5 separate regions of the Homo sapiens genome follow, and regions 1, 3, 4 and 5 are each linked to region 2. Evidence: fine-mapped expression QTL. A gene starts in region 2. Each other region holds a variant in brackets. All regions are shown on one strand. Distances are from middle to middle.

Region 1 (6,357 bases), 270 kb before region 2:
TGCACCTGCAGGCTCAACACCACGTGGAAACTGCCAAGGCTTGGGGCTTGCACCCTCTGAAGCCACTGCAAAGCTCTATGTTGGCCTCTTTCAGCCATGGCTGGAGCAGCTGAGACGCAGGGCACCAAGTCCCTAGGCTGCATACAGTACAGGTACTCAGGGCCCTGCCCAAAAAACCATTTTTTCCTGCTAGATCTCTGGGTCTGTAATGGGAGAGGCTGCCACAAAGGTCTCTGACATGCCCTGGTGACACTTTCCCCATTGTCTTGGGGATTAACATTTGGCTCCTCATTACTCATGAAAATATCTGCAGCTAGCTCAAATTTCTCCTCAGGAAATGGGATTTTCTCTTCTATTGCATTGTCAGGCTGCAAATTTTCCAAACTTTTATGCTCTGCTTCCCTTTCAAAACTGAATGCCTTTAGCAGCATCCAAGTCACCTCTTGAATGCCTTGCTGCTTAGAAATGTCTTCCACCAGATACCCTAAATCATCTCTCTCAAGTTCCAAGTTCCACAAATTTCTAGGGCAGGGGCAAAATACCAGTAGTCTCTTTGCTAAAACATAAAAAGAGTCACCTTTGCTCCAGTTCCCAAGAAGTTCCTCATCTCCATCTGAGACCATCTCAGCCTGGATTTCATTGTCTATATCATTATCAGTATTTTTGTCAAAGCCATTCAACAAGTCTCTAGGAAGTTGGAAACTTTCCCACATTTTCCTGTCTTCTTCTGAGCCCTCAAAGCTGTTCCAATCTCTGCCTGTTAGCTAGTTACAAAGTCGCTTCCACATTTTCAGGTATCTTTTCAGCAACACCTCACTCCTGGTACCAATTTACTATGTTAGTCCCTTTTCATGCTGCTGATAAAGACGCACCCAGGACTGGGAAGTAAAAGAGGTTTCATTGAACTTACAGTTCCACATGGCTGGGGAGGCCTCAGAATCATGGTGGGAGATGAAAGGCATTTCTTACATGGCAGCAGCAAGAGAAAATGAAGAGATGCAAAAGTGGAAACCTCTGATAAAACCATCAGATCTCATGAGACTTATTCACCACCAAGAGAACAGTATGATGCAAATTATCTCCCACCGGGTCCCTCCCACAACAGGTGGGAATTATGGGAATACAATTCAAGATGAGATTTGGGTGGAGACACAGAGACAAACCACATCATCATCCAAACTCTCTGGGCTTTATCTCCCCATTTGTAAAGTGAGGGTTCTAATAGAGCCTTCCTCAGAAGTGAAGTGAGGAGTGAAGTAGGCCATCAGCAAAACAATCACGACTAATGCTTGCACAGTGGGATCCGTGTCCCATGCACTATCCTAAATTCGTCCTATGCATTGACTTTCCTAATTGTCACAGCACCCCCACGAAGGAGGTACTGTAGTTACTTCCATTTCACAGAAGAGGAAACTGAAACATGAAAGTCAATGAACCAGCTTTCCCAGCTAGAAAGGAATGAAAATGGGATCGGACCCAGAGTGTTTGGCCTCAGGGCCTGGGTCTATAACCTCCAAGCTCTCCTGCCTCCCATAACCCCCACCATGTTGTTAGTTAATGGTAGCATGATTTATGAACCAAATAGAAAGTCCAGAAATGTGGTTATCATACAGACAAATCCTAAGTGACCCAGGCTAAGGGGTGGTCAGAGCACCAATGCAGAAGCTACAATCAGAGCTGGTTGAGGAGACACTAAGGGGCTTGGCTCAGTTCCAGTGACCCCATGGCAGAAGTGTGATGAAAAGCTCATTGGGGTCATCTTGAAGAGGGCCTGGGATCCCAGTCCTGGCACCTGTATGGTGGAGAGTGGAAAATGCTTGTCAGGTCTAAGAAGTCAAAGATTGCAACAAAAGCAGGGCTTTGGGGAGATTCAAGAGGCAGTGAGATGCAGCTGCTTTGGGGAGTGAGGCAGGGTTGCACTATGGACAGCCTGCTGCTTGGGGCCCTGTCCTGCAGGAAGAAGCCAGATGGCATGGACCCTCTGGCTATCCTAAAGCACATGGACCCTCGTGCCTCCCAAGAGAAGCCAAGGCATCCTTACTCTTCCGTGACTCTCATTGGGGCCTGGGACTCTCACTGGGGATGGGGAGGTCCTTGGAGTTGGTTGCCTAAGCTGCAGCAGGAATTGCTGGCTGGCAAGGTGGAAAAATTTATAACTGGCTCTTATAAGTGAGAACAATACACAAAAGAGAGGGTCCTTCTGAGAGGCATGGTGGAGGCACACAGGAAGGGTTGGTCCCAGGCCCAAATTCATGTGTCAGAGCAGTGAATGCTGTGTGTATCTAGTGCATGAAAAGGGCTGGGCATTTGTTGGTAGACATCAAAATTACTGACTAAGCAAGTGTAGATTTTCCTCTAAACCAGTGACATCCCTCATCCTCAAAATGCTGTTACATCTTCCTCCAGAATGTGAGAAACTTCTCCCTGCCCCTGGAAAACCAGGTCTGAGAGTCATTTCGTAACAACTGTAATGTCTATAGCTTCTCCTACTTATGCTAGAGTCAGGCTGTCCCCTAAAGCACAATGAGTGGGACCCCAGACTCCACGGTGAGCCTCATGCCCGGAAAGACTAAAAATCTCTGGGAGAGAAGGCTGTGGGCACCTGAGTGTCAACATCATACCCTGTGTGGTGGCAGTTGTCTGTCACAGCCTGCTAGTGCCACCAAAACAACCCAAGGTCACAGAGAGTGGCAGCTGTACAGAGTTCCCACAGTGGAGGCAGGGCGGGCAGGCCCTCCAGTGAGACAAGCCGGCCACGTCCCCCAGGTCACCCGACAACTGCACTCTGTCTCCCCAGATG[G/T]TTCCAGTCAGTCTATGGAGAACTTCATTCCTCTGCCTCTCTCTTGAGGAAACTGCAGCTTTCGGAACCTCCCCTGAAGGAGAGAAGGGGGCAGCGGGGACATGAGAATTGACCCTGAGGAGTTGGCAGGAGGGAGTCCTTCCTGTTTACCCGCCCCAGTCCAGCCACTTCTTTGTTACCTTTAGACGGCAGGGCAAGGTTGGCTGGATTGATTATGACAGCTCCTTGCTGCTCCACACCATCACCTCTCCACAGGACTCCTTCCTGGGGTTGTGAGAAGGGGCTGAATGTACTAACTACCTCTGCTCCCTGCTAGAATGCTAGCCTCATGAGGGCTGGGATTTTTGTCTGTTTGGTTCACTGTTGAACCCCTAAAATCTAGAAGAGTGCTTGGTACATAGTAGAGGTGCAATGAACATTCCTTGAAGGAATAATTATTGATATAAAGTAAAATTCCCGAAGTAGATTTCATAGTTAATTGATCTTGGTGGCTGGGCTTGTAATCCCTGCACTTTGGGAGGCTGAGGTGTGCAGCTCACTTGAGGTCAGGAGTTCGAGACCAGCCTGGCCAACATGGAGAAACCTTGTCTCTACTAAAAATGCAAAAATTAGCCAGGCATAGTACATGCCTGTAATCCCAGCTATTCAGGAGGCTGAGGCAGGAGAATCGCTTGAACCCAGGAGGCAGAGATTGCAGTGAGCCGAGATCATACCACTGCACTCCAGCCTGGGTGACAGAGAAAGACTCCATCTCAAAAACAAACAAACAAACAAACAAAACAACAACAACAAAACAATAGTTATTGGATCTTGGGCCAGGCACAGGGACTCATGCCTGTAATCCCAGCATTTTGGGAGGCCAAGGCAAGAGGATTGCTTGAGCCCAGGAGTTTGAGACCAGCCTAGGCAACATGGTGAGACCTCATCTCTACAAAAAATAAATAAAATTAGCCAGGTGTGGTGGCATGCGCCTGTGGTCCTAGCAACTTGGGAGGCTGAGGTGGGAGGATCACCTAGACTGAGAGGTCAAGGCTGCAGTGAGTCAAGATCTCACCACTGCACTCCAACCTGGTTGACAGAGCAAGACCCAGTCTCAAAAAACAGTGGGGGTTGGTTGGGTGGAGTTAGTTATGAATCTTTAGACATTAAACAAAGTAACTGAAATGGAAGAAGAAGAGGCGAGAATGACCCCCCGACCGATCAAAGCCTGTGCGCCGCTGCATCCCGGGCCCAGCATCTAAGTCCCACTGCTGTCACCGCCGCCACCTTGCCCAAGAGGAAGACCGAAGGGGATGTTAAAGGAGATAAAGCCAAGGTGGACACACCTCAGAGAAGATCCACAAGGTTGTCTGCTAAACCTGCTCCTCCAAAGCCAGAGCCCAAGCCTAAAAAGGCCCCTGCAAAGAAGGGAGAGAAGGTACCTAAAGGGAAAAAGGGAAAAGCTGATGCTGGCAAGGAGGGGAATTACCCTGCAGAAAAAGGAGATGCCATAACAGACCAGGCCAGGGAAGCTGAAGGTGATGGAGAGGCCAAGTGAAGTGTGTGCATTTTTGATAACTGTGTACTTCTGGTGACTGTACAGTTTGAAATACTATTTTTTATCAAGTTTTATAAAAATGCAGAATTTTGTTTTACTTTGTTTTTTAAAGCTATTATGTTGTTAGCACACAGAACACTTCGTTGTTTTTTCTGGGGGAAGGGCTATATGTCACTAATAGAATGTCTCCAAAGCTGGAGTGATGTGAGGAAAACACCTTTCCCTTCTAGTTTTGGGAGACTTCCTCTTGGCTCCCGGGAGGAGGGATTCCCTGACTTTGATACACATGAGTACCTTGGCACTAAAGCTTTGTGTTTGGAAAAAGCAATTCATTTTTATGTCCTCTTCTCCCTTTCTATCTTTCAGCATAGACTTAACTCTCTTAAGCCCAGACATCTGTTGGGACCTCATCCCCAGTCATTGGTTACCAGTGTGTCAGGCAATCTGGACTTTCCAGTGGTGCCACTGAGATGGCACCTGTCTAAAGAGCAGTGGTTCCGTTCCTAGACTGTGGATCTTCAGATACATTCTGCCATTTTCATTTCACTTCCTGAAAGTCAGGGTCACCTCGTGAAAAGTTGTTAAACAACATGCTAAATGTGAAATGTCAACCCTCACTCTAAACTTCCCCTGTTCAGAGCATCAGATGAAGACTTCATTGGGTTTTATAGTGGCTTTCTGATTTTTGGCAGTCCACTGAAGAAGGGAGTTTGAAAGTTGTTGCATACTGTTAACAATTGTCTTCCATGTCCTGCCTGAAATACCATGATTGTTTATGGAAAGTATCTTTAATAAAGCTGGATACAGTTCGGCTTGGAAAAAAATGTAACTGAAATATATATATAATATATATATAATATATAGGTATATAAATAAAGGCTCTTAAAAATAAGAGGAAAATGTGACAAAATGATAAACATCATGAGAGAGTTTTAAAAAATCCTCTCAGAGAAACTGATTGATTGAGTAGACAAAACATAAATGAGAATGTAAAATGTTTGCATAATGAAAATTATAAGCTTAATCTAATAAATACACCTATAGAACATTTATAAAGAGTGAGCATATACTAGGCCACAAAGAGAATCTCAGGAAATTCCAAAAAAGTAGGCCATGTTATTTTTATTATTATTATTATATTTTATTATACTTTAAGTTCTAGGGTACATGTGCACAACATGCAGTTTTGTTACATAGCTATACATGTGCCATGTTGGTTTGCTGCACCCATCAACTTGTCATTTACATTAGGTATTTCTCCTAATGCTATCCGTCCCCCAGCTCCCCACCCCCCAACAGGCCCTGGTGTGTGATGTTCCCGCCCTGTGTCCATGTGTTCTCATTGTTCAACTCCCATCTATGAGTGAGAACATGCGGTGTTTGGTATTCTGTCTTTGGGTTAGTTTGCTTAGAATGAAGAATTCCAGCTTCATCCATGTCCCTGCAAAGGACATAAACTTATCCTTTTTTATGGCTGTATAGTATTCCATGGTATATATGTGCCACATTTTCTTTTTTTTTTTCAAAAGCGTTCTCACTCTGTCGCCCAGGCTGGAGTGCAGTGGCGCGATCTCGGCTCATTGCAAGCTCCGCCTCCCGGGTTCACGCCATTCTCCTGCCTCAGCCTCCTGAGTAGCTGGGACTACAGGCGCCCGCCACCACGCCCGGCTAAATTTTTTGTATTTTTTTTAGTAGAGACGGAGTTTAACCGTGTTAGCCAGGATGATCTCGATCTCCTGACCTCGTGATCCACCCGCGTCAGCCTCCCAAACTGCTGGGATTGAGGCGTGAGCCACTGCGCCTGGCCATGCCACATTTTCTTAATAAAGTCTATCATTGATGGACATTTGGGTTGGTTCCAAGTCTTTGCTATTGTGAGTAGTGAAAGTAGGCCATGTTACTTAATACTGCTTCCTGATGACACAAAGCTAGGAAAACCCTAAAATGAAGAATAGAAAAACATACAAAGAAAAATATATATACATACAAACATTTGTATGTATAATTGACCCATGAGCAA
Region 2 (5,000 bases):
AATCTGTCATTCTCATAAGGTTGTTAGGATGATCAAACAAGATAAAGGTACATAAAAGAGCTCTATAGAATTATAATGTACAAGGCCGGGCACAGTGGCTCATGCCTGTAATCCCAGCACTTTGGGAGGCCGAGGTACGCGGATCAAAAGGTCAGGAGATCGAGATCATCCTGGCTAACACGGTGAAACCCCGTATCTACTAAAAATACAAAAAATTAGCCAGGCGTAGCAGCGTGCACCTGTAGTCCCAGCTGCTGGGGAGGCTGAGGCAAGAGAATGGCGTGAACCCGGGAAGCGGAGCTTGCAGTGAGCTGAGATCACGCCACACTGTACTCCAGCCTGGGCGACAGAGCAAGACTCTGTCTCAAAACAAACAAACAAACAAACAAACAAAAAGAATTATAATGTACAACATAAACGTATTTTATTTATTCTTTTTTTTTTTTTTTTTTTGAGACGGAGTTTCACTCTTGTCACCCAAGCTGGAGTGCAATGGCACAATCTTGGCTCACCACAACCTCCACCTCCTGGGTTCAAGTGATTCTCCTGCCTCAGCCTCCCAAGTAGCTGGGATTACAGGCGCCTGTCACCACGCCCAACTAACTTTTGTATTTTTAGTAGAGACAGGGTCTCGCCCTGTTGGCCAGGCTGGTCTTGAACTCCTGATCTTGGGTGATCCACCCCCTCGGCCTCCCAAAGTGCTGGGATTACAGGAATGAGCCACCACGCCCGGCTACTTTCTTCTTTAAATCAATTATATGGCCATTATTTATTTCATAAATAGGCATTCAGTGACTTTGAAATATTATGGTCCAGATAGAGACAACAGGGTTGTACAACAGAAATATGTAGGTCAAAATTTTAAATATTCTAGTAGTGACACTAAAAAATATAATAGATTGGCAAAATTTAGTAATCTATAATCTTGATCTACTACATCCAGAATGTTATTTCAACATGTGATTCATATAATAGTGACTAATGAGGTATCTTACACTCTTTTTTTGTAGTAAGTCTTTGAAATCCTGTGTGTATTCTACATTGACGGGACATCTCATTTTGGACTAACCACATTTCAAGTGCTCAGTATTCACATATGGATACTGTGCAGGACAGCACACACTAATTGGTAATGTAAATACAAGTTAGTTAAGATCTGTGAAGTACTTTATGGTTTCCAAAACTCTTTTGGCATTTAAATCTTGCGTCAGCCCCAGCAGGTAGATGTTTATCATTTCCATTTTGTAGAGGAGAGGCTGCAGCAATTACCTGTAAGTCACCCAAGCTCATCCAGCTAGTAAATGGTGAACTCAATTCTTGTCTTAAACCTGGGCACTTTCCCTTTTGCTTGCTTGCCTAAACAAGCAATACAAAGACAAACTTAATATTTATACACATACGTCCCATGGCTCATTGCAGTAGTACAGGACAGAAACAATTATTTCAAAATCCACCTACAATCTAGTCTCCAAAAATCCTGCCCAGTTTAATTGCACCACAATCTACTAACTGTAATTCTAAAAATGTGTATGTTGGATAATCTTCCAGCTCTAAAGTGCTGTGAATTAAAAAAATGCCATAGGCAGGCATAAAAAAATCCTACCCTCTATTATATTCTCCATCTGATATAGAATATATGATATATATTCTATAAATGAATACATGATACAGAGTCTATCATGTAGTGATTTACTTTTTACTTTTGTGAATTACAACGTGGTAGGGTAGGAAATGAGAAAGCTTAAAAAGCCTAATTTTCTCACTAAAGCATAACCAGACACAGCAGCCTATTAGGGGTTTCTCCAGAAGATGGCAGGCAGTCAAGGGGGACAGAGTTCGACCCGCGACAGGCCAACTGATTTCCCCAAAAAGATGCCAAGGGCAGCTAACCGCCCTCCTGGCCCGCGAAGCTGCTCCTTGAGGGCCCAAAACTTCCCGGAGGAGCCAGAGGAGGCCCTCAGGAGCCACAGCTCTCCCTGACTTGGCCTGTATTTGCACCCCTAGGGATCCCATTCCCTTTCCCGACGCAGCGCAAGGAAGGGGAGCGGAATGGGGGCTGAAAGGCAATAAAAAACTTGTAAAGCCGTATCTGCTAGTTCTCCCAGTGGGCTATGTCCCTGCAAATATCCTCCACAAGAAGTAAACTGGGTGGGTAGGAAGAGGTGAAGGCTCCCTCCTCAGGGCTGCCGGGACCGCCTCGAGGGCTTGTCTGTTTAGGTCCCAATTCCTCCCGGATCCGTACATTCACACGAGCGCAGGGCAACAATCTGAGCGAGTGTTCGTGTGTGCCCGTGTGACTCGCCATCGCGTGGCAGATGTTCAGTAGAACATTACAGTAATTTCTGTTACAGGTCCATGGGCGCAGGTCCCTGAGCCCACAGCTTCGCGGGGGTCTGGCCGAGCATGCGTCACAACCTACGCGGCCAAGAGCAGTGCGCACGCGCAACCTAACGCGGGACTGCCAGCAACTTCCGGGCGTTTACAGGCAGGCAGGTCAGTGATGTGTCCTAAGGGTCCGACCGACCTAGATACCCCTCTTTGATTCCTCCTCTTGGGATTAGTGTCCATCTCTGGAAGCAGGATCCAGGAGGACGGGAGGGGCCGCTGCGGACCGCAGTCGCTCCACCTGGAGGAGACACCAGAAGGAAGACAGCCTGAGGGACGCAGCCATCCCCGGCTCCTACCGGCGCCCCGCCCCGCGCATGCGCACGCGCACAGGGAGTCAGCTGGCTGCGCGGGAGGTCACGGGAAGTGGGGCGGTGCCCAGACAGCTGGAGGGAAGGAGGTGTCAGGCGGGGAGAGACGCAAACGGCGGGACCAGCAGCGACGGTAGCAGCAGCATGGCCGCGATCTATGGGGGTGTAGAGGGGTGAGTGCGGCCCGGCGGAGGGAGCCTGGGCCCGAAGGCGGGGCGGAAGGCCGTGGCCAGCCTGGCAAGCTGGTGGCCTTGATCCTCGGCGTCCGGGCACTTTGGGCGGCGGGACCTTGCGGTGAAGAGGTGTGTGCACGCGCAGGGGCGCCCTGGAGCGCACAGCTGTATGCCTTACGGGGACTCTGCCTGTGCAACAGCCACACCCCGGGTTGGGGATCCTTTGTGTTTCTTGGCGGAACCACGCCCCTTTCTTCCACGAAACACCCACTCCGCTGTCTTCAGCTGGAGAAGCAGCTCCTTTTTCCTATTCCTGACCTCGGACAGAGTTTTGCAGAACAGGTGTCAGGTGTGAAATTGCTGAGCGCGGGCAGGGTGGGGAGTGGGAGTGGGGAGAAGCGGGACAAAGATCTTGGCTGAGGTTATCCGGGAGCTGGAGCAGCTGCGAGCCAGAGTACTAGGTTGTCCTGATGTCTGAAAACCGCTCCATCCCTGTTGGCCTTCCATGCTGCTTTCACTAGATTGCATTTTTCTGCTCAGAAGCTTGTTTACTGAACTTTTTGTAATAGCTCTGCCCCTGGGTATGACCATGGACAAGATATTTACCCTCCCTGGGCTACAGTTACCGTATGTGCAAAGTGAGGATAGGGATAAATAAGATCGCTATGTCCCTGCCAGTGGCAACATTCTGTGAATCTGAGTTTGTCAAATCAGGGAATAATGGGGGTCGCTGGCCTCTCAGCCAGGGCACTGTACTTTCGAATCTGTGATTGTTTTCACTTCTCTGGCAGCCACACCCCACTGCTGATTCACAGACCCCAAAGTCTTTTCACATGAATTGTTAGGAATGATCTTTCCCATCCTGTATTTGTAGCACTTAAAAAAAACAGTATAGGAGTCTGCATTCATCCTTGTTATAGTCATCTGTAAGATATGACCCGTTTCTTCCAGTTCGTCAAGACATGCTTTTGGATGTGGAATCTGCCACCTCATGTATTAACTACCCCCTTGAAATTTCATGTCCTCTTTGAGTTTGATGAGCGGTCTTCAGTGTCTTCTTCTGCCATTCCTAAAAGTAATGATCAATAAAGAAACATATATCCCATCACCACAGATCTCCCTGTGAACTACTGTGACCCCCAGTAATCAACATTTGAAGGTTTAGTTGCTTAAGTATGTATGAAGTCACCCTGCCATCTGGTCAGCATTTCTAGCAAAGGTGTCTTGAAGACCTTGGCAGCTGGATCTTGAAATGCAGTCTTTAGCTATTGTGAGGGAAGCAGAGAGATGTGCCATTTTTCTTAGGAGTGTTTGCTGAGCATTGCCTGTGCCAGCTCCTGTGCTCGTTCTGAGAGGGTAAGTAAGTGATCAGGAGCTTGACCCAGTGGAGCTTGAAGTCTAGTGAGAGGCGGACACAAAGCGTCTGAACACACACTTCATACAGAGGAGACTTTAATAACTTTGGAGGCACTATGAAGGTTTAACTAACGGAGACTTAACTAATTCGTTGGGGTGGGCCACACCTCAGAAAAGGTTTCGAGGACTAGGTGAAGCGTAAGTAGAGTCTTGCAGGATAAGGAGGACATCCCCAAGGGAAGAGGAGTGAGAATTATGTTTCAGTTAAAGAGCACTCAAACACTGAACCACAGAGGCGGGTTTGGGAGTGGTGATTGAGTTTGTCGAAGCTGTCTCCTCCATCATACTGGGCTCTGCCAGTGTGGACAGCACAAGCTTAGCTCTCTCTGTGGGTTTTTCCGAGCAAGATCAAGTGCCCTCTTGTGTTCTGTAGGGGAGGCACACGATCCGAGGTCCTTTTAGTCTCAGAGGATGGGAAGATCCTGGCAGAAGCAGATGGACTGAGCACAAACCACTGGGTAAAAACCACACTGAGGGGATCAGAGGGCTTGGTTCTGATTTTATTCTCTGTAATTCCTGTTGAGGTGGTGGCTGGGACTCACAGAGCAGCCTGTGGGGGCAACATAGCTTCTGTAAGCCTTTGTAACTCCTTCTTCCCTTGATTGGGGCCAGCTGATCGGGACAGACAAGTGTGTGGAGAGGATCAATGAGATGGTGAACAGGGCCAAACGGAAAGCAGGGGTGGATCCTCTGGTACCGCTGCGAAGCTTGGTGA
Region 3 (6,357 bases), 20 kb before region 2:
TGTGATGTTGTTCCTAATAGCCAGGGGTAGACAATGACATTACTCCAAATATCGCACTGGGTGTACATCCCTTCTGTGCTCTTGTTCCTAATATCCAGCTGGGGTATACACCACCTGCAATATTGGAAGTAATCGTATTTTCTGCCCCCCTCCCCCGGATATTAGAAACAATATCGCAGGGGGTGTGAAGAACCCCTGCGATATTTGGAGTAATATCGTCTCCCTTCATGAGTATTAAGAAGAATATCAAGGGGGGGTCGAGGGAACACACCCTTTGATATTTCATATCATCCTCTTCACCGGTGGATATTAGGAAAAATATGAGGAAGGGATGTACAGACCCTGAGACATTTGCTGTCCTATAACTGTCTCTCCCCTAGTAATTAGGAATAATGTAATGGGGGATGTGAACACCCCTGCGATATTGGGAGAAATATCATCCTCTCCCACCTTGGATATTAGGAACAATATCACAGGGTTGTGTACACCTCCTGCGTTATTGGGAGTAATATCATCCTCCCTCCCTCTGGATAGTAGGAAGAGTTTCACAGGGGTGTGTACACCCCCTGCGATAGTAGAAGTAATATCATCCTGTCGCCCTGAGGAGGGAAGCCACTTTTCTGACTGTCTCCTGTCTCTGAAAAGGAGAAGGAAGTAAAAGTTGAAAAAGAACAGGATGAAGTCAGTGTCAAGAGCAGTTGTTGCCACTGATGAGCTGGCCCGAGGTGAAAAGATGAACCCCCCCCCGCCCAACTCTAAGCACATGTGCTCTCAATCCATCACGATCCTTTCACGTGGAACCCCTTAGAGTTGTAAGCCCTGAAAAGGGCCAGGGAGTCTGTCTTCCTTCGGGGAGCTCGGCTCTTAAGACGCGAGTCTGCAGACGCTCCCGGTCGAAAAAGAATTCTCTTCCTTTTTAAATCCGGTGTCTGAGAGGTTTTGTCTTTGGCTCATCCAGAACGTTTACTTGGTTCACTCTGACCACGAGTCGAACCCAGGCCGCGGTGGATGAGAGCGCCGAATCCTAACCACTAGACCGCCAGGGGAACTTGGAACTCTGTGAGAGATAGATTGCCCAACTTTAATAGTGGGTTGGCCATCAGAAGGAAGCCTGGACAGGTCCCTTGTTTCTAAGGTGTGGCAAAAGGTGACTGGTAAAGGATACCTAGACCAGTTCCCATACATAGACACTTGGTGACAGCTGGTGCTAGACCCCCCACAGTGGCTAAGAGGCCAGGCAGCAGCAGTACTAGGAGCAAAGGGACAGATAGCTAAGGAAGGATCCGGCTCCACCCACCCAGGGAAATCAACTCCTGAAGTTCTATTCGACCCAACATCAGAAGATCCATTACAGGAGATGGCACCAGTGATCCCAGTGCTGCCTTCCCCTTACCAGGGAAAGAGGCTCCCCACTCTTGAGCCCACAGTGCTTGTGCCTCCCCAAGACAAGCATATCCCTAGGCCACCCAGAGCAGATAAGAGAGGAGGTGGAGACTCGGGAGAAACCCCTCCCTTGGCAGCTGGTTTATGACCCGAAACTGGGATACAAATGCCCCTGAGAGAGCAGCGGTATACTGGGATAGATGAGGATGGTCACTTGGTGGAGAGGCGTGTTTTTGTGTAGCAGCCCTTCACCTCTGACCACCTTCTCAACTGGAAAAACAATACCTTGTGCAATACCGAAAAGCCACAAGCTCTAATTGATTTGCTCCAAACTATTATCCAGACCCACAACCCCACCTGGGCTGATTGGCACCAGTTGCTCATGTTCCTCTTTAACAGAGATGAAAGGCGGAGAGTCCTCCAAGCAGCAACTAAGTGGCTAGAGGAACATGCACCAGCTGATTATCAAAAACCCCCCTAAGGACCCAGTTACCAGGAACCGAACCCCAGTGGGACCCAAATGAAAGAGAGGCTATGCAAAGGCTAAACCGCTAAACTGAGACAGGGAAGCTCTCTTGGAAGGATTAAAGAGGGGAGCACAGAAGGCCACAAACGTTAACAAGGTCTCTGAGGTCATTCAGGGAAAAGAAGAAAGTCCAGCACAATTCTACGAGACACCGTGTGAGGCCTATTGTATGTATACTCCCTTTGATCCTGATAGTCTTGAAAATCAGCGCATGATTCACATGGCTTTAGTCAGTCAAAGCGCAGAAGACATTGGAAGAAAACTGCAGAAACAGGCTGGGTTTGCAGGGATGAATACATCACAATTATTAGAAATAGCCAACCAGGTGTTTGTAAACAGGGCTGCAGTAAGCCTTGAGGAAAACCGCAAAGAGAATGGACATCAGGCCCGGCGAAACACCGACCTGGTTGTCAGCTGCAGCAATCAGAGGGGTCCTCCGAAGGAGGCAAGGGAAGGGGGGGCCCTGGGAATGAAACTCAGCTTGGCTGTCAGAGTTTGCAGTGTAACCAGTGTGCTTCTTGTAAAGAAATAGGACACTGGAAGAACAAATGCCCTCAGCTCAAAAGAAAACAAGGTGACTCAGAGCAGGAGGCCCCGGACAAGGAGGAAGGGGCCCTGCTCAACCTGGCAGAAGGGTTATTGGACTGAGGGAGACCAGGCTCAAGTGTCCCCAAAGAGCCTATGGTCAGAATGACAGTCGGGGGTAGAGACATTGATTTTCTTGTAGGTAGCGGTGCTGAACATTCGCTAGTAACCGCCCTGGTCGGCCCCTTATCCAAAAAGACTATTGATATCATCGGAGCCATGGGGGTTTCAGCAAAGCAAGCTTTCTGCTGGCCTCAGACTTGTACTGTAGGAGGACATAAAGTGATTCATCAGTTTTTGTACATGCCTGACTGTCCCTTGCCCTTGTTGGGAAGGGACTTGCTCAGCAAGCTGAGAGCAACTGTCTTTGCTGCTAAAATTCCCCAGAA[C/T]GGGAGTCATTATGACCCTTACCATCCCCGGAGAGGAGGAATGGAGACTTTTTTTTAACTGAGCCGGGCGGAGAGATAAGATCACCTCTGGCTAAGTGGTGGCGAAGAGTACGGGCAGAAGACAACCCTCCAGGGTTGGCAGTCAACCAAGCCCCCATACTCATACAAGTTAAGCCTGGGGCCCAGCTGGTTAGGCAAAACCAGGACCCGGTCCCCAGAGAAGCTCTTCAAGGTATCGAGGGCCATCTCAAGCACCTAAGAACTTTGGGAATTACAATTCCTTGTCAGTCTCCTTGCTGGAGCGTGTTGCTCCCATACGTTCATGACCTTTTGCTGGGACACCCCATGGCAGTCGGGTGCGCCAAGGGAACGGATGCCCTACTCTGGCACCTGGAGGACTGTGGGTATAAGGTGTCCAAGAAAAAAGCTCAGATCTGCTGATAGCAGGTACCTTACTTGGGATTTAGTATCCGACAGGGGGAACGCGGCCTGGAATCAGAAAGAAAGCAGGTCATTTGCAATCTACCAGAGCCTAAGAGCAGAAGGCAGGTGAGAGAATTCTTACGAGCTGTGGGGTTTCATAGACTGTGGATCCCAAACTTTGCAGTATTAGCCAAGCCTTTGTATGACCTCACAAAGTTTGGGGGTGGGGGGACAGGGAAACTTTTGAATGCGGATCCCAACAACAGCAAGCCTTTCATGAGTTAAAGGAAAAACTTATGTCAGCCCCAGCCCTGGGGCTACCCGATCTGACAAAGCCTTTTACATTGTATGTGTCAGAAAGAGAAAAGATGGCAGTTGGAGTTTTAAGCCAAACTGTGGGGCCCTGGCCGAGGCCGGTGGCCTACCTCTCTAAACAACTAGATGGAGTTTCTAAAGGATGGCCCCCCTGTTTGAGGGCCTTGGCAGCAACTGCCCTGCTAGTCCAAGAAGCAAATAAGCTGACTTTTGGGCAAAACCTGAACATAAAGGCCCCCCATGTTGGGGTGACTTTAATGAACACTAAAGGACATCATTGGCTAATGAATGCTAGACTCATCAAGTACCAAAGTGTGCTCTGTGAAAATCCCCGTATAACCACTGAAGTTTGTAACACCCTAAACCCTGCCACCTTGCTCCCGGTATCAGAGCGGCCTGTCAAGCGTGATTGTGTAGAAGTGTTGGATTCAGTTGACTCTAGCAGACCTGACCTTCGGGACCAGCCTTGGGCATCAGTAGACTGGGAACTATACGTGGACAGGAGCAGCTTCATCAACCCACAAGGAGAGAGATGTGCAGGATATACAGTGATGCAGTAGTAGCCCTGGATACTGTTGTTGAAGCCAGATCATTGCCCCAGGCCACTTCAGCCCAGAAAACTGAACTCATTGCTTTAATTGGGGCCTTAGAACTCAGTGAAGGTGAGACTGTCAACATTGACACTGATTCTCGGTATGCCTTTTTAACCCTTCAAGTGCGTAGAGGATTATAGAAAGAAAAGGGCCTACTGAACTCTGGGGGGAAAGACATAAAATATCAACAAGAAATCTTGCAATTATTAGAAGCAGTATGGAAACCCCACAAGGTGGCACTTAGGCATCAGCAAGCTTCCACCTTGCTGGGTTTGGGGAATTCCCACGCTGACTCAGAGGCTCAAAAAGCAGCATCTGTCCCCTTCCAGGCATCAGTCACAGCCCCTCTGCTCCCTCAAACACCTGATCTTGTACCTACTTCTTCTAAAGAAGAAAAGGACTTTCTCCAGGTAAAGGGGAGGACAAGTGACAGAGGAAGGATGGATTCAGTTACCAGATGGGAGAGTAGCTGTGCCACAGCTCCTAGGAGGTGCAGTTGTACTGGCTGTGCATGAAACCATCCATCTAGGTCAGGAGTCACTGGAAAAGTTGTTAGGCCGGTATTTCTACATCTCGCATTTGTCAGCCCTCGCCAAAACCATGAGGCAGCGGTTTGTTACCTGCCGACACCATAATGCGAGGCAAGGTCCAGCTGTTCCGCCCGGCATACAAGCTTATGCAGCAGCCCCCATTGAAGATCTGCAGGTAGACTTCAGAGAGATGCCAAAGTGTGGAGGTAACAAGTATTTACTAGTTCTTGGGTGTACCTAGTCTGGGTGGGTGGAGGCTTATCCAACATGAACTGAGAAAGCTCGTGAAGTAACCCATCTGCTTCTTCGAGATCTTATTCCTAGGTTTGAACTGCCCTTATGGGTAGGCTCAGATAACGGGCCAGTGTTTGTGGCTGACTTGGTACAGAAGACGGCAAAGGTATTGGGGATCACACGGAAACTGCATGCCGCCTCCCAGCCTCAGAGTTCCGGAAAGGTGGAGCGGATGAATCGGACTATCAAAAATAGTGCTATACTATTGTCTTCCCCGCTGGATATTTAAAACAGCACCACAAGGGGCATCAAACCACCTGCTAAATTTGAGGGAATGTTATCCTCTCCCCACCTCCCCCGGCCCCGGATATTAGAGACAATAACACAGGGGTAATGTACACCCACTGCTTTATTGGGAGTAATATCATCCTCTCCCTTCTTGGATATTAGGAACAATATCACACTGTGCATGTACGCCTGTCGTGAAATTCAATGGAATGTCATCCTTTGCCTCCCTGGATATGATGAACAATATCACGGGGGATGTACAACTTGTGAGATATTGGGAGTGATATCATCCTCTCCCGTCTGGAAGTTAGGGACAGTATCACAGGGGTGGTGTACACCCTCTGGGATGTTGGGACTAATATCATCCTCCCGCCCACTGGATATGAAAAACCATATCACAAGGGGCTTGTACACACACTTCGATATTGGTATTAATACCATCCTCTCCCTCTTTGGATATTCGGTGCCATATTTCAGGTGGGGTATACACCACCTGCAATATTGGAAGTAATAAGATTTTCTCCCCCCCGGATATCAGAGACAATATCACAGGGGGTGTCAACAGCCCCTGCGATATTTGGAGTAATATCATCGTCTCCCCTCATGAATATTAAGAACAACATCGTAGGGGTGGGGGGTGTACACCCCCTTTCATATTTGATATCATCCTCTTCCCCCCTGGATATTAGGAACAATATCAGGAAGGGATGTGCAGACCCTGCAATATTTGCCGTCATATAATTGTCTCTCCCCTAGATATTAGGAAAAATGTAACTGGGGATGTGACCAGCCCTGCGATATTGGGAGTAGTATCATCCTCTCCCCGTTGCATATTAGGAACAGTATCACAGGTGGGGTGTAGTGTCTCTGCGATATTGGGAGTAAAATTATCCTCTCTTCCCCTGGATATTAGGAAGGGTATCAGAGGGGGAGGGTGTACATTCCCTTCGATATTCAATGTAATCTTATCCTCTCCCTCCCAGGGTATTAAGAACAATATTACAGGAGGGGTGTACACCCCCTGCGATATTGAGAGTCATATCATTCTCTTTCGCTCTGGATATTAGGAACAATATCACAGGGTTGTGTAC
Region 4 (5,000 bases), 550 kb before region 2:
GGACAAGTGTTGCCATGCTTATCGTTCAGCTGTTTGGTACTCAGGTAAATGTTCCCAACAGAAACAAGGTAAAAAGGAGGCTCACCCATTTAGCTCATGAGTCCCCAGAAGTGGAGCCATCCCAAAACCTATGTGCTGATGTGTCAATGGGAAATGCTCTTAAGAGAGGCTGGACACCCCTCTCCCCTGGGCCCCAGAGCAGGATACCCCCACTCCAACTCCTCAATCAGGCATGGGACTAGCAATTCTGCACAGATACCCAGGCTGTGCCTTCAGCGTCAGACACCCTTCATCATCAACCACCCATTGGCCTGGTGACCACCTCTTCTGTGGACACTCAGCTATAGTGCCTGGAGCTGGGAGGAGCATCCTCTGGCCCCTGACCACCTCAGCAGAGTGGACCATGTCCTGCTCTGGCCTCTGCTGGGGCTGGGGTTTGCTTTCAGGCCCCTATGTACTCCACTGCATGGATCAGTTGCTCCCTCTAGAATATCAAGAGCTCTACCTTTCACCTGTTTGGGATCCTCTAAGCCAGACTTCCTGCATGAAGGGATGAAGGGTAAGTTTTTGTTTTCAGGGGGATGTGGGAGGATGAAGAGGCTGCAGCAGGTCCTTTTGGATGAAGGATGTTCTGGATTCAGACGAGGTGGTGAGGAAAGGCCTTTGGATGAAGAACACGCTCAGGGCGGGAGGATAGGAATTGTGCTAGAGGGCAGGGCAGAAGGGAGTGTGGGTATTCAGAGGGCAGCAGGTTTCCCCCTTCCTCCCCTACCATTCTTAGACCTGGCAGGTCCTAAGGAACAGGAAGTAGTTAGTGGTACGTAGACGGTGGGAATCCTGCTGCTCAGGGAGAGGTCTGCAAAGGCTCCCATGTAGGCATAAATATATAAAGAAATGGGCCACACAGAACCCAGGGCCAGATAGTATAGGTTCATGGCATCTTCCCTTATGAATTATATCCCAACATTCAAATTTTATTTGCAAGCATGGCAGGATTTTAACTGCGTAGCAAAAATCACTAAATTGTATGATTTCATCAATATTTTTAAATCCAAGAGGTTGACAGCCAGGTGAGGATGCTGGCTTCAGGGTAAGAACTGATTAAGAAGGAAAAAGGGAAGGCCCTGCAGAGGAGGACTATGAGCAAGGCTGGTAGGATGAGCGTACCATGGACTATCCATAAACTCATTGGGATATTAAGGTCAAAAGTAGCCATGTGGCATCTCCATTGGACAGCAGCAAGTTCCAACTAGAAAAATCTCGGGAAATACTTCATGATTATGACATCACAGGAAATGATCCAGCATTACCTGAAAGCTCATAGGAATTTTCCATATCCATCTAAACATATCTGACAATAGCAAAAAACAAAGTATTCAGAATGAATCTTCAGGATCAGGGAGGCAAGAGAGATGGGCAGATGGGTGCCTGCACCACAACCCCCTACCACTTTCTAGCCTGTCACAGCACAGCAGAAAGGGGCTTTGCCATCAGGCCTGGGTGCAAATCCTGGCTCTGCCACTCCTTCACTGTGAGATCTTGGCTCTATTATGTACCCTTGCTAAGGCTTGGTGTGCTCATCCATAAAACAAGGATAACAGCCCTTCATGGGACTTGCAAGGATTAAGTGAAACAAAATGAAATAGAGTACATGAGGTCCATAAGTCACCATGAGCACCCACTGAACACAGCACTTGATGGGGCTTCATGTTGGTCCTGTTTCATCATAACTTCCAGGAAGTTCAGGATGATGAGGAGGTGGTCATGACCCTCCTCCCTTTGGAAATCACTAAGGGAACTTCAACGAAGGGTTTTACTTGAGGCCCCGGGGTCGCCCAGCTGCAGGCTACTGATGTTCCATGGACTGATCTTGAAATAGCATGCCTTTTACGCCTTTTGAGGGTTTAAATAGTCAAAATTGTGAAACCCGGACTCCACTAAAAATACAAAAATCAGCTGGGTGTGGTGGTGGGCATCTGTAATACCAGCTACTTGGGAGGCAGAGGAGGAGAATTGTTTGAACCTGGGAGGCGGAGATTGCAGGGAGCCAAGATTGTGCCACTGCACTCCAGCCTGGGTGACAGAGCGAGACTCCCACTCCAAAAAAAAAAAATTGTTATTTACTTATGTTAACTAATCAAATATTTATTTAGCACCTACATACTGTGAGCAAATTAAGTAAAAAAAGAGAAATCTGAGACCTTTGACTTTCCCTTAAAATGTTCAAGTCACGTGGGACAGCAACTACCCGAGAAAAATGGAATCCTCCCTACTTCAACAAAGGCAGACAAGTGTAGGCTGTTGAAGTTATCACTACAGCCCACCAAGGCACCGGACCGACCCTATATTCCCATAGATGCTTCCCCTGCTTCCATGCCCAAACACTATCTCCAACCTCCACCACTCTCCACAAGGCCTGTACCCCAGATCATGTGTTCAAAATTGAACTCATGTCTTCCACCTCTTCCTTGGTTCTGGGCGGGACTGATAACTAGGCAGTCATTGTCAGCCCTTCCCTCTCCTTCACCCAGTATCCAAGCCAAGCCCTCCTACACACCCAGCCTCCACACCGTCCATCCTATCCATCCCCCTGCATCCCTGCTGTTACTGCCCCAATTCAGGCCCTATCATCTCTCCCTGTGCTATCAAAATAGTTGTTAGACTGGTTTTCTTGCCAACAGCTTAAAAAAAAAAATCTTTGCTCCTACTACTAGACTGACCTTGCTGAATGAAATCACTCCTATCCTCTAAGCTCTCCATGGGCTCTGTACCACTCACAGAACCCAGC[G/A]CAGAGACAGAACCCAGCCCCAAGTCCTGAGTAGAGATTTAGCATGCATAACCTGATCCTAGACCTCGTTTCCACCTAAACTCCACCCATTCCCTCCTGTCAGGTCCTCTGACCCCAGCTGCCCAGCACTGCCCCTTTTCCCTGCACAAAAATTGGCACTCCCAACTTGGTGCCTTGGGTTCATGCTACTAGGATCCTCACCCAACTTCTTATGGCTGCTGACTTTAGTTTAGTTGCCTGAGCCTCAGTTTCCTTCACTGTAAAAGCAGATAAAGATATCCAACTCTTGCACAGGGTTGTTTAGAGATTAAACGAGAGACACATGAGAAAAATGTGGTATATTGAGTGACACACAATAAACATGCAACAAATGGTAGCTGCTACTATTGATAGTTTTTTTTGTTGTTGTTTGTTTGTTTTTTTTTTTTTTTTTTTTTGAGTCTCGCTCTGTCTCCTAGGCTGGAGTGCAGTGGCACGATCTTGGCTCACTGCAACCTCTGCCTTCCGAATTCAAGCGATTCTTCTGCCTCCGCCTCCCGAGTAGCTGGGACCACAGGCACGCGCCACCATGCCTGGCTAATTTTTGTAGTTTTAGTAGAGACGGGGTTTCACCATATTGGCCAGGCTGGTCTTGAACTCCTGACTTCATGATTCACCTGCCTTGGCCTCCCAAAGTGCTGGGATTACAGGCGCAGGCCACCGTACCGAACCTATTGACAGTTTTCATTCACATCATGCTGATCTCTCAAGTCGGCATATCCCATCCTCTACCCATGGGAATCAAATTGGCCTCTCAAAGCCTTGCTCAAATGTCAGAAATAATCATTTCTTCCTCAGAGGAATCCTTACTTTATTCTGCCTTGCAGTTCAGAAGTTTTTACATCTTACCTGTCTCTCCTCTCTAGTGCGGTCAGGAGCTGTGGCTAAATCATCTCTATCCTTACACCTGGCCTAACGCACCTACATAGGATTTTAATACATTTATGTTGAACTGAATTTCTCTAAGAGGTCACCAGCTTGAAAACAGAGTTAAAGTCTCATCAAAGACTTGGACTAGGGGCTGGGTAGTGAGTAGTGAGGGTGTACAGATGGGGAATGGGAAAACCTGCAGATCCTCGGGAATTCCTTTACTTCTAGTCTAGATCCCTGCCGCTACAGCTCTAGGTCTTGGTTCTTACTCTAATTTCAGTGGAGATGAGGAGCACTTGAATTTTTATTTCCAACTTTTATTTTTTATTTATTTACTTTTTTATGATGGAGTCTTACTCTGTTGCCCAGGCTGGAGTACAGTGGCATGATCTCAGCTCACTGCAACCTCCACCTCCCAGGTTCAAGCAATTCTCCTGCCTCAGCCTCCTGAATAGCTGGGATACAGGTGTGTGTCATCACACCCGGCTAATTTTTTATATTTTTGGTACAGACGAGGTTTCACCATGTTGGCCAGGCTGGTCTTAAACTCCCGACCTTAAGTGATCCACCTGCCTCGACCTCCCAAAGTGCTGGGATCACAGCCAACTTTTATTTTAAGTTCAGGGGTACACGTGCAGGATGTGCAGGTTTGTTACTTAAGTAGACGTGGGCCATGGTGGTTTGCTGCACAGAGCACTTGAATCCTGACATTCATTCATTCAACAAGTGCTCACTGAGCACCTGCTGCACCATTAGCGGGACATTGTCTAGGTGCTGGGCAGAGAGCAATGAATGAAAAGTCCCTTCCTATGAGAAAGGATCCTTCCAATTCTCAAAAGCCATTGAACTCCATTATAAATAGCTGTACCATTGTTCAGTTGGGTGGTAAGTTAAATCTGTGTTTTTCTATTTAAATGATATTAAATATTCCCACTACAATATTGAAAAATCCATGAGGAATGAAGGAACTGTCATCCTTATCCAAAGCCCGGATTTAAGTCTGCTGAAGTGGCCTGTCAAGTGGATCCTGCATTGTTTGGTCACCCGATGAGATGACCCCTGAAATATTTTATTTTCCTACCCTTAACTCATTTTGTTGGCTTTTCCTGAAACTTTTATAAGAACACAAAGACTTCCATCCAGTGACCCCAAAGAGGCCTGGCCATATCCCAAGGAGGCTAAGACAGAGGAGTGAACGCTCATTGTGAACGTTCGTTGTGAATGTTGTGTCCCAGGGCTCTTCAAGCAAAGGCAAGACTTGCCACAAGGAGTTTACAATCCAGATGATTGAAGCAAACACACT
Region 5 (6,357 bases), 62 kb after region 2:
TTAACTCTCATTCCAATCTTCCTTTCAATATCAATTCTCGTTAATCACTTTTAGTGTCCTGACTTAAAAACAACATTGCATTTCTTTCAGTTCAGATTTTGCATTTATTTCAGATCACACTTTTTAGACACTGTCCCTGAATACATAAAGGTTTAGCTGCAAGGATCTATACTCAAATGCATTAAGAGTACTTACTATTTAAAGACATTAGATGTTAAATTTGTATAAAAAGTACTATAAAAGTGAATAATCACTTGTAATAGGTTTTTTAACAGCTTTATCTCTTAATAGTTTTTAAACAGACTTAAAATTTATATACCATAAAGTTCACCCATTTGAAGTGTACAATTCATTTCTTTGCATCTTTGCAAAGTTGTGCGACCTTCACATAATCTAATTTTAGAACACGTAATAAGTTTGTTTGTTTTTTTGAAACGAGTCTGGCTCTGTAGCCCAGGCTGGAGTGCAATGGCGCAATCTTGGCTCAGTGCAACCTCTGCTTCCCAGGTTCAAGCAATTCTCCTGCCTCAGCCTCCGGAGTAGCCGGGATTACAGGAGCGCGCCACCACGCCCGGTTAATTTTTGTATTTTTAGTAGAGATGGGTTTTGCCATGTTGGCCAGGCTGGTCTTGAACTCCTGACCTCAGGTGATCCACCTTCCTCAGCCTCCCAAAGTGCTGGGATTACAGGCGTGAGTCACCGCGCCTGGCCGAACATAAGTCTGAATTTTCACTGAATATCTGGTTTGAGGAAACATACGTATTTAGAAAGTCATTCATTAGAAGTGCTTTCAAGTTAGTCTGGTAAGTTTTCTCTTAAACATTTGACCAGTTAATTTCACAGCACCATATATATATCTTCAACTTGTTTCAAACTATGATCAATTTTTTTTATTCATTACAGTAAGTAAACAGATTACATTTCTGTTAGCCCATTTACAGACGATTAATGAAAGTAAACCTATGCAGTCATGTAAGTTGGTCATTCTTGTCTCCCACCTAACAGGTTCAATTTCCATTTTCAGAACTTTTCTACGTGTTCACTCTGATTTTTCTGTGCTTTTGTTTTTCGGCGAAGTTTTATGTTCCTTAAAAGAGGGGCCATAACATAGAATTACCATGTAATCCAGCAATTCCACTTATGAGTATACACACCCCCAAAGAAGCGGGAATTCAGAAGTATTTGTACACCCACGTTCATAGCTGTATTACAATAGCCAAAAGGTGGGGATAACCCAAATGTCTATCAAGAGACGAATGGATAAACAAAATGTGGTATACACACACAATGGAATATTATTCAGTCTTAAAAAGCAATTTTTTTTTTTTTTCTGAGACGGAGTTTCGCTTTGGTTGCCCAGGCTGGAGTGCAGTGGCGCGATCTTGGCTCACGCCAACCTCCGCCTCCCGGGTTCAAGCGATTATCCTGCCTCAGCCTCCCGAGTACCCGGGATAACAGGCGTGTGCTACCACGCCCGGCTAATTTTTGTATTTTTAGTAGAGACGGGCTCACGCCTGTAATCCCAGCACTTTGGGAAGACGAGGTGGGCAGATCACCTGAGGCCAGGAGTTCCAAACCAGCCTGGCCAACATGGTGAAATCTCGTCTCCACTAAAAATGCAAAAAATTAGCCGGGCGTGGTGCCGGGTGCCTGTAATCCCAGCTACTCGGGAGGCTGAGGCGGAAGAATGGCTTGAACCTGGGAGGCAGAGGTTGCAGTGAGCTAACGCCACTGCACTCCAGCCTGGGCGACAGAGTGAGACTCTGTCTCAAAAAAAAAAAAAAAGGTAAATTTTACTTTATGTATATTCAACCACACACACACACACACAAGTGGAGACATTAAGCTTCAAGTATCTTAATAGGACAAATCAAAGGCAATCTTTGGAATACACTGTCTTCATTTTTCCTTTATGCCAAGATGTGTATGTAAGTACAAAACAAACATGCACCTTTATCTGTATTGAGTTCTTGCAGTATGTATATGACCTGTTGGAAGTCATACTTTTTCCCAAACTGTCAATCATTAAAGTGTGCAGTTCTAAAAATAGACATAAAAATGCCTTTTCCCAAATATTCATTTATTTATAGTTTTACGTTCCTATCTTGTGTATCACCTAAGAGGAAGGTATGCCTTACGGTTAAGAATGTGGGCTCTGGTGCTAGAAGGATTTATCACGAATGTCCCGGAGTAACTCTGGGGCATTACCACTTGGCACCTTCTTCCTAATAGGGAATCTCAGATTAAGGGAAATACTTGCCCTCTCATAAAAGGAGGAAGAGAAAAAAAAAAAGGATAAAAAGAGGAGAAAGTGAGTCAGAAAACGTGACAATTATTACAGTTATTTCTGTCATAACTGATTCTATGTACATATTTTAAAAAAAATGAAGGGGGAGAGAACTCAAGAAAGTTTCCAAATCCACATGCTTTTATCTGTGTACGCGATAAATATATTAGTGCACGTGGAAAAACCACTCCTTTTGTATTCTTTACACCACTGACCTTTGAGTGTTCCCAACAGAAAGCTGGTCACGCTTGGAGTTCGGCCGACTAGTAGTTGTTGTTTTTACGGAACGTGCTCTCCTTTCTGGTTTCTCCCCAGTCTCTTTATTGGTGCGCGGTAAAATAACTTACCGATCCGCTTCTATTTACTTCTGTCCCTGCCCTGCCTGACCTGCCGGGCAAGTTCCCTCGACTCTCCCGCCCACATACTGGAAGGTGCAGAGCCCAAGGCGCACAGCTCTCGGATGGAAATGGGACTCATGCACAAGGCAATCCCCGCTACTAAGCGGTGGCGCTTCTGGAAGGCACCCTCTGCCTAAGTGACAGCAGCTGCTGTGGAACGCGCCCCCGGGGGAGGACATTAGATCAAGGTGCTTTGGCCACGCCGAGGCCTCCTCCGCCCCCGACCGCCGTTCCCACGCTCCCTGTCCCATGGCGAAGGTCGCCGGTGCCCGGTATTCACCTACGGCATTCGCGGCTGCAGCCTTCAGCACCCGCGCCATTTTGGAAAGCAACCCGCCACGTCAAGACTAGCCACGGAGGTTGAGAGACGCGCGGCAGAGGGCGGGGCGGGAGGCAGAGGGGGCGGGGACAGAAAGGTCAGGGGCGTGGCGAAGGTCGCTGCTTTCCTGCTACAACGGGCCTACTTTAGCTAAAACAGAAACGTAAGGCCAGGACGGGTCACCCTTTGTGGGCCCCTGAAAAATACAAAACGAAGTTTGGAGAGAGTTGAAAGGCGTTTGGGCTGACCATGGAGATTTTTGTTTCCCACCCTCCTGCGAAAGCGCTCGCGCTGCCATTGGCTCTGGCTGAGGGCGAGTCCGGAACCTGTGCGCCGCGGAACTTTCGGCTCTGAAATCCAAGTTGCGCTGGGCGCATCTTTGCCGCGCGGTTTCCGGGCGGCTCCCTTCCCTTGC[A/G]TGCTGCATTGTGTCGGGAGTTGCTGACAGCCATGGCGCCGCAGGTCTGGCGTCGACGGACCCTGGAGCGGTGTCTGACGGAAGTCGGCAAAGCCACGGGTCGGCCCGAGTGCTTCCTCACGTAAGTGCGCAGATCCCGGGCTCGGGGTGCGACCGGGGTCTCACGTGGACGCGGGTTGCAGGCCTCCGGCAAATTGTGGAGCTGGGGGAAGGTAAGGGGAAACGTAAAATCGCTTTTCCCCAAATTTCAGAGTTTATGCTTTCCTAGGCTATCAAAATTTTAAAAACTGTTAAAATTTGTATAGATGGATCTCTCAGTTGAGTGTTACTGAAATCACTCTAACCTCAATTGTTAACACCTAGAAGCTTCCCTTGGGCTTCTTACGCCCCCATCCCTCTACACACAGACTGTTGGTTTCTCCTTCCTCCTATGTGCTCTCAAAGCACTTAGCGCTTAGCATACTTTATTGAAAGTACGAACTTGTCACTTGTCTGTCCACCCCCCATGACTAAGCTTCTTCAGAAATAGAACTTCCATGTCTCTTCCCAACACAAGCGTTTTATATGTATTTTGTTGAAGAATTTAAAATGTGATCTATGAAATTATTACTCATTTATGTTTCAAACCCCAACCTTTCCCTGAGTTCCCAGCTCACAGCAACTACAGACTGAGCTTAGTTTGAATTCCGTAGCACACAACTGGGATATCCACACTGTACAACTTTTAACGATTTTTAAAATTTTGGTACTGTCAAGCATCTCAAATTCACTGCGTCCAAAATAGAGCTGTTGTGTCTGTTTAATAGAATTGTTGTTTCTACCCACCTATACTCTGCCATCCCCTGAAGTCCTTTTCCCATGCTACACCTGTCAAGCGCGTCTGTGTGAAGAGACCACTAAAACAGGCTTTGTGTGAGCCACAAGGCTGTTTATTCACTTGGGTGCAAGTGGGCTGAGTCCGAAAAGAGAGTCAACTAATGGTGATGGGGAAGGGGTTGCTTTATAGGAGTTGGGTAGGTAATGGAAAATTACAGTAAAAGGTGGTTATCTATTAGCAGAGGAGGACGGGGTCACAAGGTACATGGTGGGGAGATCATAAGACTTATTGTCCAGAAGAAGAATGTCACAAGGTCGATTGATCAGTTAAGGTAGGGCAGGGACAAGTCACAATGGAGGAATGTTGTAATGTTGATTAATCAATTAAGGCAGGAACTGGCTGTTTTATTTCTTTTGTGGTTTTTCGGCTGCCCCAGACTTCTTGGCTCCTGCAGGCCATCTGGACATATATGTGCAGGTCACAGGGGTTACAATGGCTGAGCTTCAGCTCAGAGGCCTGACACCACCACCCAAGCCTTCCCTATCTCAGTAAATGGCACTTCTGTCTTTTCAGGTACTCAAACATAAAACTAGGCTGCTACTTTAATGTCTTCATTTTTCTCTATTCTATATCTAATTCTTTAGCAATCCTGTCAGTTCTACCTCCAAACTATACTCAGCATATTCACTGCTCTAACTCCAGTCTAAATCACCATTATCCTTTCGCTGGAATGCTGCATCAACCTTCTAATCACTGTACTTTCCTCCTCCTCCCTCGTCCCTTTCTCCTTCCTTCGTGTAAATCATCATTTCATCCCTCTGCTTAAAATGTTTTCTCTTTACACTTTAAATGACAAATTCTTACTCCTGAACCATGCATAATTTGGCTCCCATCAGTCTCTCCAGCTTCACCCTCTGCCTCCTTCACACTCTAGCCATGGTCACCTGTTTGTTTCCTCAAGCTCACCTCTAGAGGATTTGCATCTTAGAGGATTTCTTCTGCCTGGAATACATGTTTCCCAACCTTTATAAGACTATCTCCTTATCTGTAGGTTTCCTCTCAGATGTGACATCTAAGAGAGGTTTTCCTTGACCACTGTAGCCAAAGCAAATGTTGATCATTGAATGAATAAGTGAACAAATGAATGGAGTGGTATATAATGTAGCAGAATTGATAATTTAAGGTTAATTCACTATATATCTCCAAGCAAATAGATTTATAATGGTTTTCCTGCCTAAAATCTATACAGCCGATTCACAGATACTTGGTTGACAGGTTTTATATATCAGTGTAGCTCATCAGCTTATATGTTGTTGGGGGCCAGAATCTATACTTATACTTCATTCAAATTTTATTTTACAAAAGAGTTGGGTTTTTTTTATTTTTATTAAGAGTGCTGTGAAATTATTACCTGTAATTCTAAATCTCACTTAATTCCTCCCAATAGGATTCAAGAGGGATTGGCATCAAAGTTCACTTCTTTAACAAAAGTGCTTTATGACTTTAATAAAATATTAGAGAATGGTAGGATCCATGGAAGCCCCTTGCAAAAACTTGTGATAGAAAATTTTGATGATGAGCAGATTTGGCAACAACTGGAATTGCAAAATGAACCAATTTTACAATACTTTCAGAATGCAGTTAGTGAAACAATTAATGATGAAGATATCAGTCTTCTCCCAGAGAGTGAAGAACAGGAACGTGAAGAGGATGGTTCAGAGATAGAGGCTGATGACAAGGAGGACCTAGAAGATTTAGAGGAGGAGGAAGTGTCCGACATGGGTAATGATGATCCTGAAATGGGTGAGAGAGCTGAAAACTCAAGCAAATCTGATCTGAGGAAAAGCCCCGTTTTCAGTGATGAGGATTCTGACCTTGACTTTGATATCAGCAAATTGGAACAGCAGAGCAAGGTGCAAAACAAAGGACAGGGAAAACCAAGAGAAAAGTCCATAGTAGATGATAAATTCTTCAAACTCTCTGAAATGGAGGCCTATTTAGAAAACATAGAAAAAGAAGAGGAACGAAAAGATGATAATGATGAGGAGGAGGAAGATATTGATTTTTTTGAAGATATTGATTCTGATGAAGATGAAGGGGGACTGTTTGGAAGTAAAAAAC

Evidence for each region.
Region 1: its variant is fine-mapped to the expression of NAGK in left ventricle (GTEx, PIP 0.91).
Region 3: its variant is fine-mapped to the expression of NAGK in whole blood (INTERVAL, PIP above 0.99). The same link has a PIP of 0.9 or more in monocytes after Pam3CSK4.
Region 4: its variant is fine-mapped to the expression of NAGK in cerebral cortex (GTEx, PIP 0.99).
Region 5: its variant is fine-mapped to the expression of NAGK in tibial artery (GTEx, PIP above 0.99).

Annotation. Positions count from the first base shown.
Region 1 is chr2:70,799,090-70,805,446 of GRCh38, forward strand. It overlaps the pseudogene HMGN2P21. Among named protein-coding and RNA genes, the nearest start is that of FIGLA, 12 kb to the left of the region's middle. RefSeq lists an enhancer at 997-1,551. The variant G/T (reference allele first, on the strand shown) is at 2,801.
Region 2 is chr2:71,065,844-71,070,843 of GRCh38, forward strand. NAGK (N-acetylglucosamine kinase) reads left to right here and starts at 2,805. Exons shown (of 10, transcript NM_017567.6): 1 at 2,805-2,869; 2 at 4,659-4,743; 3 at 4,898-4,996. The coding sequence starts at 2,841. RefSeq lists a silencer at 3,031-3,090.
Region 3 is chr2:71,045,385-71,051,741 of GRCh38, forward strand. It overlaps the pseudogene TRE-CTC15-1. Among named protein-coding and RNA genes, the nearest start is that of NAGK, 20 kb to the right of the region's middle. The variant C/T (reference allele first, on the strand shown) is at 2,884.
Region 4 is chr2:70,518,414-70,523,413 of GRCh38, forward strand. The region is part of intron 1 of TGFA (transforming growth factor alpha); the gene reads right to left. Among named protein-coding and RNA genes, the nearest start is that of TGFA, 33 kb to the right of the region's middle. The variant G/A (reference allele first, on the strand shown) is at 2,789.
Region 5 is chr2:71,127,215-71,133,571 of GRCh38, forward strand. It overlaps MCEE (methylmalonyl-CoA epimerase), which reads right to left and starts at 3,015. Exons shown (of 3, transcript NM_032601.4): 1 at 2,966-3,015. The coding sequence starts at 3,005. It overlaps MPHOSPH10 (M-phase phosphoprotein 10), which reads left to right and starts at 3,420. Exons shown (of 11, transcript NM_005791.3): 1 at 3,420-3,540; 2 at 5,684-6,357. The coding sequence starts at 3,452. RefSeq lists enhancers at 2,238-3,096, 3,418-3,467, 3,568-3,617. The variant A/G (reference allele first, on the strand shown) is at 3,420.